2 separate regions of the Homo sapiens genome follow, and region 2 is linked to region 1. Evidence: fine-mapped expression QTL. A gene starts in region 1. The other region holds a variant in brackets. All regions are shown on one strand. Distances are from middle to middle. Region 1 holds the start of P3H3 (prolyl 3-hydroxylase 3). Region 2 overlaps CD163 (CD163 molecule).

What was found. PIP is the estimated chance that this variant, and not a neighbour inherited with it, causes the effect.
Region 2: its variant is the best candidate, but not a certain one, in a credible set for the expression of P3H3 in nucleus accumbens (GTEx, PIP 0.73).

What each region holds. Positions count from the first base shown.
Region 1 is chr12:6,825,481-6,830,848 of GRCh38, forward strand. P3H3 (prolyl 3-hydroxylase 3) reads left to right here and starts at 2,927. Exons shown (of 15, transcript NM_014262.5): 1 at 2,927-3,458; 2 at 4,379-4,531; 3 at 4,873-5,074; 4 at 5,159-5,290. The coding sequence starts at 2,961. GPR162 (G protein-coupled receptor 162) reads left to right here. Exons shown (of 5, transcript NM_019858.2): 3 at 4-193; 4 at 716-873; 5 at 1,173-1,941. The coding sequence ends at 1,724. RefSeq lists enhancers at 1,584-2,152, 3,310-3,811, 3,550-3,609, 3,859-4,394 and a silencer at 3,290-3,399.
Region 2 is chr12:7,494,835-7,500,204 of GRCh38, forward strand. It overlaps CD163 (CD163 molecule), which reads right to left. Exons shown (of 17, transcript NM_203416.4): 4 at 4,034-4,354; 5 at 1,979-2,299; 6 at 247-567. It overlaps LOC124902870 (a long non-coding RNA gene), which reads left to right. Exons shown (of 2, transcript XR_007063197.1): 2 at 194-420. Among named protein-coding and RNA genes, the nearest start is that of CD163, 6.3 kb to the right of the region's middle. RefSeq lists an enhancer at 2,714-3,215. The variant T/G (reference allele first, on the strand shown) is at 3,109.

The DNA of each region.
Region 1 (5,368 bases):
CAGGTGGTGAGCTTCTTCTCCCTCAAGTCGGACTCGGCGCCCCCCTGGATGGTGCTGGCTGTGCTGTGGTGCTCCATGGCACAGACGCTGCTGCTGCCCTCCTTCATCTGGTCCTGCGAGCGCTACCGCGCCGACGTGCGCACAGTGTGGGAGCAATGCGTGGCCATCATGTCTGAGGAGGATGGAGATGACGGTCAGAGGAGGGGCTGGGCTTTGGCTTTCCTGGACATCTGTCTATTCCCTTTTCTGCCGCTCCTTCTCAGCCAGAGGATGGGCTGCCCTGGAGTGCCCCCTACTGGACAGAATCTGCACCACCCTGGGCTCCCCTTTCCCTAAGCAGGCACCCTGCTGTCCACTCACTGCTTCCCGCAGCACTCAGGGCTCCCTTCACTGGGCCTAGGCTCCCCTCCAGAAACCCACACTGCCCAGCTCTGGCACTATGGGGAACCTGAGCTTCCCGAGAGAGGCCCCCCAGCTATAGGGACGGCTCTTGGGGGAGTGCAGGCAATTGTTTCAATAACTTCATCTATATGTATGAAGCACTCCACTCAGGATTTAGCACTGAACGCAGCAAATGCTAGCCACTCTCACTGTCCTCTTGGAACATACATGCTAATGGGAACTAAAGGGGTCTCTGGGAGCTTATAAAGGCAGTGGTGGGAGGCCGCGGTAGGCATTCCCTACCTGTAACCACTCTGCCCATTTTCTCTCCTAGATGGGGGCTGTGACGACTATGCAGAGGGCCGAGTTTGCAAAGTTCGCTTTGATGCTAACGGAGCCACAGGACCAGGGAGCCGGGACCCCGCCCAGGTGAAGCTGCTGCCTGGAAGGCACATGCTCTTCCCTCCTCTTGAGAGAGTCCACTACTTACAGGTATGGAACTGGGGGATACATCTCCTACCCTTGGTGCCGCTCATCACTTTTCTCCAGTGTCTGTTAGGCACCCCAATCCCCTCTTCCCTAGCCCTGGCTTTCAGGGCACCATAGAGCTGGGTGAAAGAAAGCTATAGCAAGAGAGGCATCCCTTCAGACCTCGTGGGGCCAGGTTTGCCCACCGGAGCAAACGTTTTGAAGGTTAAGAAGGTGGCACCATCTTCCGGAGTCCCCACTTGGTTCCTGCCTCTGCCTCTGTCCCTGCAGCACCTTCAGGTCTTACCCGCTCCTCTTCCCAGGTCCCCCTATCCCGGCGTCTGTCCCATGATGAGACAAACATCTTCTCTACCCCTCGGGAACCAGGCTCCTTCCTGCACAAGTGGTCATCCTCTGATGACATCCGGGTCCTCCCAGCCCAGAGCCGGGCCCTCGGGGGTCCTCCTGAGTACCTGGGACAAAGACACAGGTTGGAGGACGAGGAGGACGAGGAAGAGGCTGAAGGTGGGGGGCTGGCCAGCCTTCGCCAATTCTTGGAGAGTGGGGTTCTGGGGTCAGGTGGGGGACCCCCACGGGGTCCTGGCTTCTTCCGGGAGGAGATCACCACCTTCATCGATGAGACACCTCTGCCTTCTCCGACTGCCTCACCAGGGCACTCTCCTCGTCGGCCCCGGCCACTGGGCCTCTCACCCCGCCGACTCTCCCTTGGGTCCCCTGAGAGCAGAGCCGTTGGACTTCCTTTGGGACTAAGCGCAGGGAGACGCTGCTCCCTGACGGGGGGTGAAGAAAGTGCAAGGGCTTGGGGAGGATCCTGGGGCCCAGGCAACCCCATCTTTCCCCAGCTGACCCTGTGAGCCCAAGCAGGCCTGCTGAACTCAGAGGAGAAAGCCTGAGTGAGTAACACCTCATTCTGGCCGAGAGTAGGGCAGCTGCCTCCAGACTCTGGGGAGACGGGCGCTAGATTTGGGGCTCAGAAGGCCCTGCTCTCTCCCATCCAAGTGACCAGATGCCCTACTCAGCTTCCATCACCCCTAGCAATATGTATTAAAGTCTGAAGTGTTGCCATGGAAACCTCAGTGTCCAGTGTACTGCGGTGGAAAGGGGCTTGGAGGGTGGAGTGGCTCACAGGGGACACGACAGAGCAGGGGCAGCAGACAGAGGCACAGAAGGACACATGGAGAAATGATCACATGCTCCACCAGGCAGCCTCGCACAGGGAAGGCTGGGAGGAGCATATCCTGCTGGGGGCGGGGCTTGAGGACACACATCTTCGTTGGTTGGGGTATGAAGGATCTCTGTTCAGATTTGTTGAGGTGGTTTTAGAGCGTGGCTCCAGCCCCAGTGCCCAACTCTCCTTCTAACCTCAAATCCATGCAGGGGCTCACTTTATGGGCAGGAAAGGTTTTGGGGCTGATGCAGTGTCCCGGGCCTGGACACCTCCTCCTTGCTGCATTTTAAAGCTCTTTCTCCAAAGGAGTGCAGGGGTGGATGAGTGTGTGTGTGGGCGGGGGTGGGAGTGCAGGGGTGGATGAGTGTGTGTGTGGGGGAGTGCAGGGGTGGATGAGTGTGTGGGGGGGGTGGGAGTGCAGGGGTGGATGAGTGTGGGGGGGTGGGAGTGCAGGGGTGGATGAGTGTGGGGGGGTGGGGGGGGGCGAGGGGGGGATCGGCGTCCACACTCCTTTTTCTGGACCCAGAAGCGTGTGTGTGGAGGGAACACAGCCCCAGTAGTTACCCCCAGACCTCAGGGGCTGAAGTCACCGCTGGGGCTGAAGTCATCCTTCATGGATGCCCAGGCCTGCTCCAGTTCCCGCCTTTTGCCCTCCTCCTCCCAGTTTCTCCCTCTTATTCCACACTAGACCAGCTTTGTCCACTCAGCACTCTTCTCTCTCCATCTTTTCACATGGGCCTCTCCCACCATCGGGTCTCAGCCCCATCTTCTCTCTCTCTCTCTCTCTCGGCCTCCCTCATTATTTCTCCCTCTCCCTCCGCCTCTCCATCTCTCCTTCCTCCCCCTCCCTCCCCTTCCCCCCTTTCCTCTCCCTCCCTCTCGGCTCCCGCATTTCCCCTCGGCTGCCGGCGGCTCCGACATCATGCTCCGGCTCCTCCGGCCGCTGCTGCTACTGCTGCTGCTGCCTCCCCCGGGGTCCCCTGAGCCCCCCGGCCTGACCCAGCTGTCCCCGGGGGCGCCCCCGCAGGCCCCCGACTTGCTCTACGCTGACGGGCTGCGCGCCTACGCGGCCGGGGCTTGGGCGCCGGCCGTGGCGCTGCTGCGGGAGGCGCTGCGGAGCCAGGCGGCGCTGGGCCGGGTGCGGCTGGATTGCGGGGCGAGCTGCGCGGCCGATCCGGGCGCCGCGCTCCCCGCCGTGCTTCTCGGGGCCCCGGAGCCCGACTCCGGGCCGGGACCCACGCAGGGGTCCTGGGAGCGACAGCTTCTCCGTGCAGCGCTCCGCCGCGCAGACTGCCTGACCCAGTGCGCAGCACGGAGGCTGGGCCCCGGGGGCGCGGCGCGGCTTCGCGTGGGGAGCGCGCTCCGGGACGCCTTCCGCCGTCGGGAGCCCTACAACTACCTGCAGAGGGCCTATTACCAGGTGGGGAGCGGGCCGGGCAGCTCCGAGGGTCCCAGCCCTCACCACGACGCTGTCCTACTTTGCGTTGCCCAGGAGTAGGCGGAATGCTGTTGCCCGGGCCCCGCACGGGGCTGGGGAGCGTACCGCGGGCCTCTGCGTAGGAGCTGGCTAAGCGACCGCGAGGACCTCTTGAGATCGCAGAGGAGCAGCCGAGGGGGAGTGCGAGCAGAATGGGAATGGGGCGGGGAGGTCGTGAGGTGGGACGGGAGCAGATCGAAGATGGAGGGACAGGGCCGCCTCTTCCTAGGAATGAAGCGGAGGCGGTGGGGGCGAAACCGGCTCTCGGACGGGAAGTGTGCGTGGGTGTGTGTGTGTGTCGGGGGTGGTGGTGAGTGTGAACCTTCGCTTGGGGCAGGAGGTAGCTTCGGAAAGGAAGGAGCAGACGGAGGCAAGGTTGGGGTCCTCCGAGGCCAGACCTCTGCGGGCGGGGAGGGGACAGCACGCCGCAGCCGCCGGTACCGCAGCAGTTGCCTACGTGGCTGGGGAAGCGGGGCGCCGGTTGTACTCACCTCAGCTCAGGGTCCTAGAGACCTGCGGGTTTTGCTGGTCGCTGAGGTCTCCCCCACTTCCCCACCTCACTTAAGCCATCACTTCCACCTGGTCTCCCAAATTGAGGTCCTGAAGTCCTGAGACCCATGTCCCACCCAACTCCGACGTCTTTAGATCCCCTTTCCCTCGGTGCCAGCCTTCTGAGAGTCCCAACGTTCTGGCCTCTAGGGGATCTGCAGTTCGGGCGGTGGGCGGTTCTGATTGGCCAGTCTTCCATGAGGCTCTGGGGCACCCAGAGTGTGTGTCTGGGGTAGGGTGGGGAGGCTGGCCAGGGGGCAGAGGTCTGCCCCCCGTCCCAGGGCTCTGATGCCCTCCTCCCTTCGCCTCCTCAGTTGAAGAAGCTGGATCTGGCAGCTGCGGCAGCACACACCTTCTTTGTAGCAAACCCCATGCACCTGCAGATGCGGGAGGACATGGCTAAGTACAGACGAATGTCGGGAGTTCGGCCCCAGAGCTTCCGGGACCTGGAGACGCCCCCACACTGGGTGAGAATCCCAGCACCACCCCTGTCTTGCCACCAGCCTTTTCCTGGCTGGATACACAGGCCTCACTAAACTGTGCGTTGTGCTGCTTGAGCATACAGATGGGGTAATGATCCTCAGCGACCCTGGCTGGGAGTCCTTCTCTAGGACTTCGTTTCCTTCCTGGATGATCACTGAAATCTGATGTTCTAACATTATGATTCTGAGGCCCACCCTTATTCTTCTCCACGGTGAAGAGGGACATGGAGTCCTTGCCCCAAATGAGACCAACACCCCTCTCCTCTCTACCTCCCAGTTTGGCAACCCCTGGATCTTAGGTGACTGACTGCTCCCTTCCCCAACAGGCAGCCTATGACACTGGCCTGGAGCTACTGGGGCGCCAGGAGGCAGGACTGGCACTGCCCAGGCTAGAGGAGGCTCTTCAGGGGAGCCTGGCCCAGATGGAGAGCTGCCGTGCTGACTGTGAGGGGCCTGAGGAGCAGCAGGGGGCTGAAGAAGAGGAGGATGGGGCTGCGAGCCAGGGGGGCCTCTATGAGGCCATTGCAGGTAAGGGTCCCGTGTGTGAGGGGGTGGGTCGGTGCCCAGGGAGGGGCATGAACAAGCTGAATGGCTTATGGGTTTCCTCTGCAGGACACTGGATTCAGGTCCTGCAGTGCCGGCAACGCTGTGTGGGGGAAACAGCCACACGCCCTGGTCGCAGCTTCCCTGTCCCAGACTTCCTTCCCAACCAGCTGAGGCGGCTACATGAGGCCCATGCTCAGGGTCAGTTGGGGAAGGGTGGAAACGGGGAGTGAAGATTTGCCTCTGCTGCTATCCTGAGCTCCATCTCTCTATCCCTCC
Region 2 (5,370 bases), 670 kb after region 1:
TCCTTAATCTTATACCTCTATTGATCTAAAAATTACTCAAAAACCAAAGTGAGCAAAACCCAAACACTTCTATCTAAAGTGCAACATGAATTGTAAACTTATCTGACTCTCCCAGTGGAATTTGTGTAGATATTTCCTGGTTTCTTGAGAGTGATCTAGTCATAAGGACCAATGTTTCTTTTCAATTTCAAAGGTAGTACTGGAAATTTACACCCTTCTTCTTAACAAGTTGATTGAAAGTCATACCTGAGCAGGTAATTTTGGCTTCTTCATAGTGATCACAGGTAAGTCCACCCCATTGCCAGTTCTTGCAGTCCCAAAGAGAAGTTTCATTTCCGTTACAGCTACTTAGAAACAGCCATGTGTTTGTTGCCTGGATTTTGGAGTACACTTGATAAGATGTTTTGAGTGCAGATCCACATCCCAGCTGCCTGCAAACCACATCAGCTTCTTTCAGTCCCCAGCCTCTGTCACACACCTTCCCTAACAGTCTCTGAATCTCCACCTCAACTGTCCCAGCACAGCGGCTGCCTCCACCTCTAAGTCTTAGCTCCAGATCTGATCCATCTGCAAAAGAAACATAAACTTAAACCATCGATACATATGGAGGTTAGCTTCCAGAGGATTTTTTTTTGTCTTTTTTCTTCTCTGATACTGATGCATTGAAAATTATAGGTAACTTATTTCCTGACTTTTTAAGAAACAATAATATAGACCATAAATTTTTGTTAGAAATGGGACTGTAGTTTCAAGGGTTGATAAAAATTGTCAATGGCAGAAAGATATGAGCAATTCAGCTTTAAAAGAGATTCCTCAAAAAGTGGGTGAAGGGTATGAACAGACACTTCTGAAAAGAAGGCATTTATGCGGACAACAAACATATGAAAAATAGCTTATCAACAATGGTCATTAGAGAAATGCAAATCAAAATCACAATGAGATACCATCTCATCCCAGTTAGAATGGCGATCATTAAAAAGTCTGGAAACAACAGATGTTGGCAAGGATGTAGAGAAATAGGAAAGCTTTTACACTGTTGGTGGGAGTGTAAATTAGTTCAACCATTATGGAAGACAGTGTGGTGATTCCTCAAGGATCTAGAACTAGAAATACCATTTGACCCAGCGATCCCATTACTGGGTATATACCCAAAGGATTATAAATCATTCTACTATAAAGACACATGCACATGTATGTTTATTGCAGCACTATCTACAATAACAAAGACTTGGAACCAACCCAAATGCCCATCAATAATAGACTGGATAAAGAAAATGTGGTACATATACACCATGGAATACTACGCAGCCATAAAAAAGAATGAGTTTATGTCCTTTGAAGGGACACAGATGAAGCTAGAAACCATCATCCTCAGCAAACTAACACACAAGAACAGAAAACCAAACACTGCATGTTCTCACTCATAACTGGGAGTTGAACAATGAGAACACACGGACACAGGGAGGGGAACATCACACACTGGGGCCTGTCAATGGGTGGGGGGAAAGGGGAGGGAGAGCATTAGGACAAATACCTAATGCATGGGGGGTTAAAACCTAGATGACAGGTTGATACGTGAAGCAGACCACCATGGAACATGTTTACCCATGTAACAAACCTGCACATTCAACACATCTATCCCAGAACTTAAAGTAAAAAAATAAGTAAATTAAAAAAATTTAAAAACAGATTCCTAGGAAATTTTGTCTCTCTGAGCTCCAGGTAGATTCTGAGTTTGAAGTGTGCTCCATAAAAGCAGTCTGAGTAATTATTACAGAGAATGCCGTCAGACAACCTTCCAAACTAGTTGAATAAAGAATGTGTCAAAGATTACAGGTATAAAGGAATTCCCAGCAAGGAATTTACTAGGCATTTCTACTTCTTAAGGAGCACGTTCCTACTCTTAAGGAGCACAGGACTTTCCGTTTCTGCTTTTCTTTTTGTTTAGTGTTTTGGTTTTGGTTTGGTTTTAACTTACCAGAACATGTCACGCCAGCATCTTCATTGTGATTGCAATAATGCTTTCCCCATTCATGGTGTTTACATTGCCAGATAGCAGGTTCATGTCCCTGGCAAGAAACGCTGTCAAGCCAGATGTGTCCAAATCCCTTACTGGCGTTAACTCGACCAATGGCTGTGACGGCAGTTGGACATCCCAGTTGCTTGCATGCCACAGCAGCATCGTAACTGTCCCAGCCGTCATCACATATTGTCCCCCATTCTCCTTGGAATCTCACTTCTAATCTTCCTGAACATTCAGTGACTCCATCTACCAGTCTCAGGCTCAGATCTGCTCCCTCTGTAACAGAGACACACAACAGGTCTGCGATAAGGAAGCAAGAACATGAGACTATAAATAGCTATACCTGAGATGAGTTAAGGAAAAGGGGAGAGATATAAGTGGAGACAGAGAAAACTGTGATGTACTGTACTACCACTGGAAATCATTCAAGATGGAAGGAGGAGTGGATCAGGCAAGAAGATGGGACATCTCAGTATAGACAGCATATACTACAGGAAGTGTTTCTAACAGGAGATACAGGGACTGAATTTCATCTAGAGACCTGCTATTTGACCACCACAGAGTTCTTGTTAGAACTGTTTACTTTTTCTGGTTAAAATATATTTGCATGTGTTTAGGTGACTCCCTCATCCTTCAGTTTGCCTCCATACTTAGCAATCCCTTTTGCCTCTGACTGCATTCTCCATTGATACTACCTAGCCTGTGTTGTACACCTGAACCTGTTGTGACCACTTCCTTAGTTTAAAAGCAGAGCAAAGAGAAAGGAGGCTTCAGTACTACAATTTTCACCTTCCCCAAATCAATATTCTTCAAAGAACAGACGTTGATTCTGAAGAATATTCTGTAATAAATTAAACTGGTTGTTTCCTCTGGCAGTTTCCGTTTTCATTCCCACAATGTTATTCATTGTGGGATTGTGATTCGTCAGCATGTGCTAACTGGGGGCCTAGAGAAATGTTGATGGGTAAAAGAGAATGGAAGGTACAGTCTGTGTTTTTTCTACTCCAAATTCTTCACATTCTTAACCTAACAAAATCTATCTTTCTTGTAGGAGTTCCATTCATTGTGGTTCAGGCTATAGCTGA[T/G]CACATTGTTCAACAAGAAAAAGCTTGTTCAAGACATGCAGAAAGAGATAGAACCCAGATGACATTGTTCAAGAACCTGAATCCAACCATGCATGAGGCTAACTATACCCTCTGGATTTCCCAGTTTTGTGAGCCAGTATTCTCTTCTTTTTAAACAAGTTTGAATGGAAGTTCCTTTATTTACACACACACACACACACACACAGAGAGAGAGAGAGAGAGAGAGAAAGGGATCTGGTGAAGATAGGGATTTTTTACTCTTATTTTCCTAAGTGTTCTCTGGGGTTCAAGACACACTCAATCTCCTTTTATACTAAGAATTCAACAGAAAAACGAAGAGTGGTATCTCTGCACACACAAACGATTTTCCCCGCCCCCAGTCTGAGTATACAACGTGAAAGTCTCTAGACAGATACAATGCATATCTAGTATAAATAAAGTTTTAATGAGAAACCAATATTGATTTTTAACAAGTGATTCGATTCTGTGAACTTGAAAAATGATTTGGGAAGGAGTGGGTTAATGAGGCTAATGAGGAGGCTTTTGTGGATTAGATGATAACTGGAGTGGTTTGGTCATAAAACTTCATAGTGCAAAATATCCTAGTAAAGCCCTTCCTTCTTTCCTTTTTCCCCTCTTTTTCTTTTCGGTCTCTCCCTTTCTTTATGGGCTTTTCCTAAACACTTTCTTCTTTTCTTATGACCTGGATCTCAGTTTCACTATGCACTTCCCTAACCTATTTCTCCTAATTTCAGTTAAGGTAAAAAGTCCACAGGTATCAGAACTGGAACCTGAAGTTAGGTTAAAATGCGGTGACAAAAGAAGCAGACTTCATTATGTTCTTAAGAGTTCAGGCTCTTAAGATTTATTACCCCTTTCTTTTGTCCTCTCCTGGAGAATAGAATGAGCCAAGATCAGTCCTTACTTGAGCAAATCACTCCAGCATCCTCAGCATGATCACAGTTATGCTTTCCCCATCCTTGATGTTTGCAGTTCCAGAGAGCTGACTCATTTCCGTTGCATATAAGATCATCAAACCAGATTGGTCCAGAGCCTTCTCCAAAATTAGATGAACCAGAGAAACTGACAGCACTTCCACATTCAAGTTGTCTACAAATGACAGATGCATGATCTATGTTGAAGTTATCATCACACACTGTTCCCCACCGTCCTTGGAATTTGATCTCTATTCTTCCAGAACACATATTCCCTCCACGCGTCAGCCTCATTTCCAAATTGGATCCATCTGGAGCAGAGAAAAGACCAGAGTTCAGAAGTTACATTCATTTAGAAGTGATTTTAGAAAAGAAGTTTCCTCTGGACACTTGGGATTTTATGTTGTCCTTAAAATGGTGCCTGATTTTGGACATTGCCCAGCTCCACACGGTAGAGAATTTTAATATGTTAAAATCTAGGAAGCAATTAGGATTTTTATCTATATCTACTTACAAAGGAAAATGTTTACAGGTTAAAGTTTTTAAACTTTCTGTTTTGTTTTGTTTCCATCTATTACTAGGACAGATGTAAATACTCTTTTTTGTACAGAAATAGATAAATTCGACTCAAGTTATTTAAATTTGACTCAGGTTAAAGCTTTAAGTGTATAAATTTCAAAAAGCAAATTGATTAACTCCACTGGTAGTTATAAAACAACAGAAAAAAAGAGCTAAAAGTACTACACTGTTTTAGCTAAACAGCCAGTTCTATACACAGCAATAATTATGATAAGAGCCTGCTAAAATTTATGATAATTTTAAACTTTGCAGTAGATGTTACTTTTGTTATTCCCCATTTCACACCTCCCATAGTGGTTAAAAATAAGAGGAAAGAAGGAGGAGAAGGAGGAGAAGGAAGAGGAAGAGGAAGCGGAGAAAGAAGAAAGAGAACTGAGTCACCAAGAGAACTGAGCCATGAGGATCTTCAGCACCTGTTACATACCAAACAGTGTACCAGTAGTTTTACATGTATTATATCATTGAATCCTCAGAAACTGAAGTTTAGAGAGATTTGACAACTTGCACAAAATCACAGGATATTAGCTATGTGAAAATTTATTTCAGCATTTTTCTAGATGCTACTGTGTGTTTCTCTTATCACATCATGATGCCTGGACAGAGATAAGTCCTTTCTATAGTCAGTCCTATGGGAGAGAGAGAGGCTGGGAGGTGAGAGGATTGTATAAAAATTAATGAAACAGGCCAGTCACGGTGGCTCACACCTGTAATCCCAGGATTTTGGGAGGCCGAGGCAGGTGGATCACCT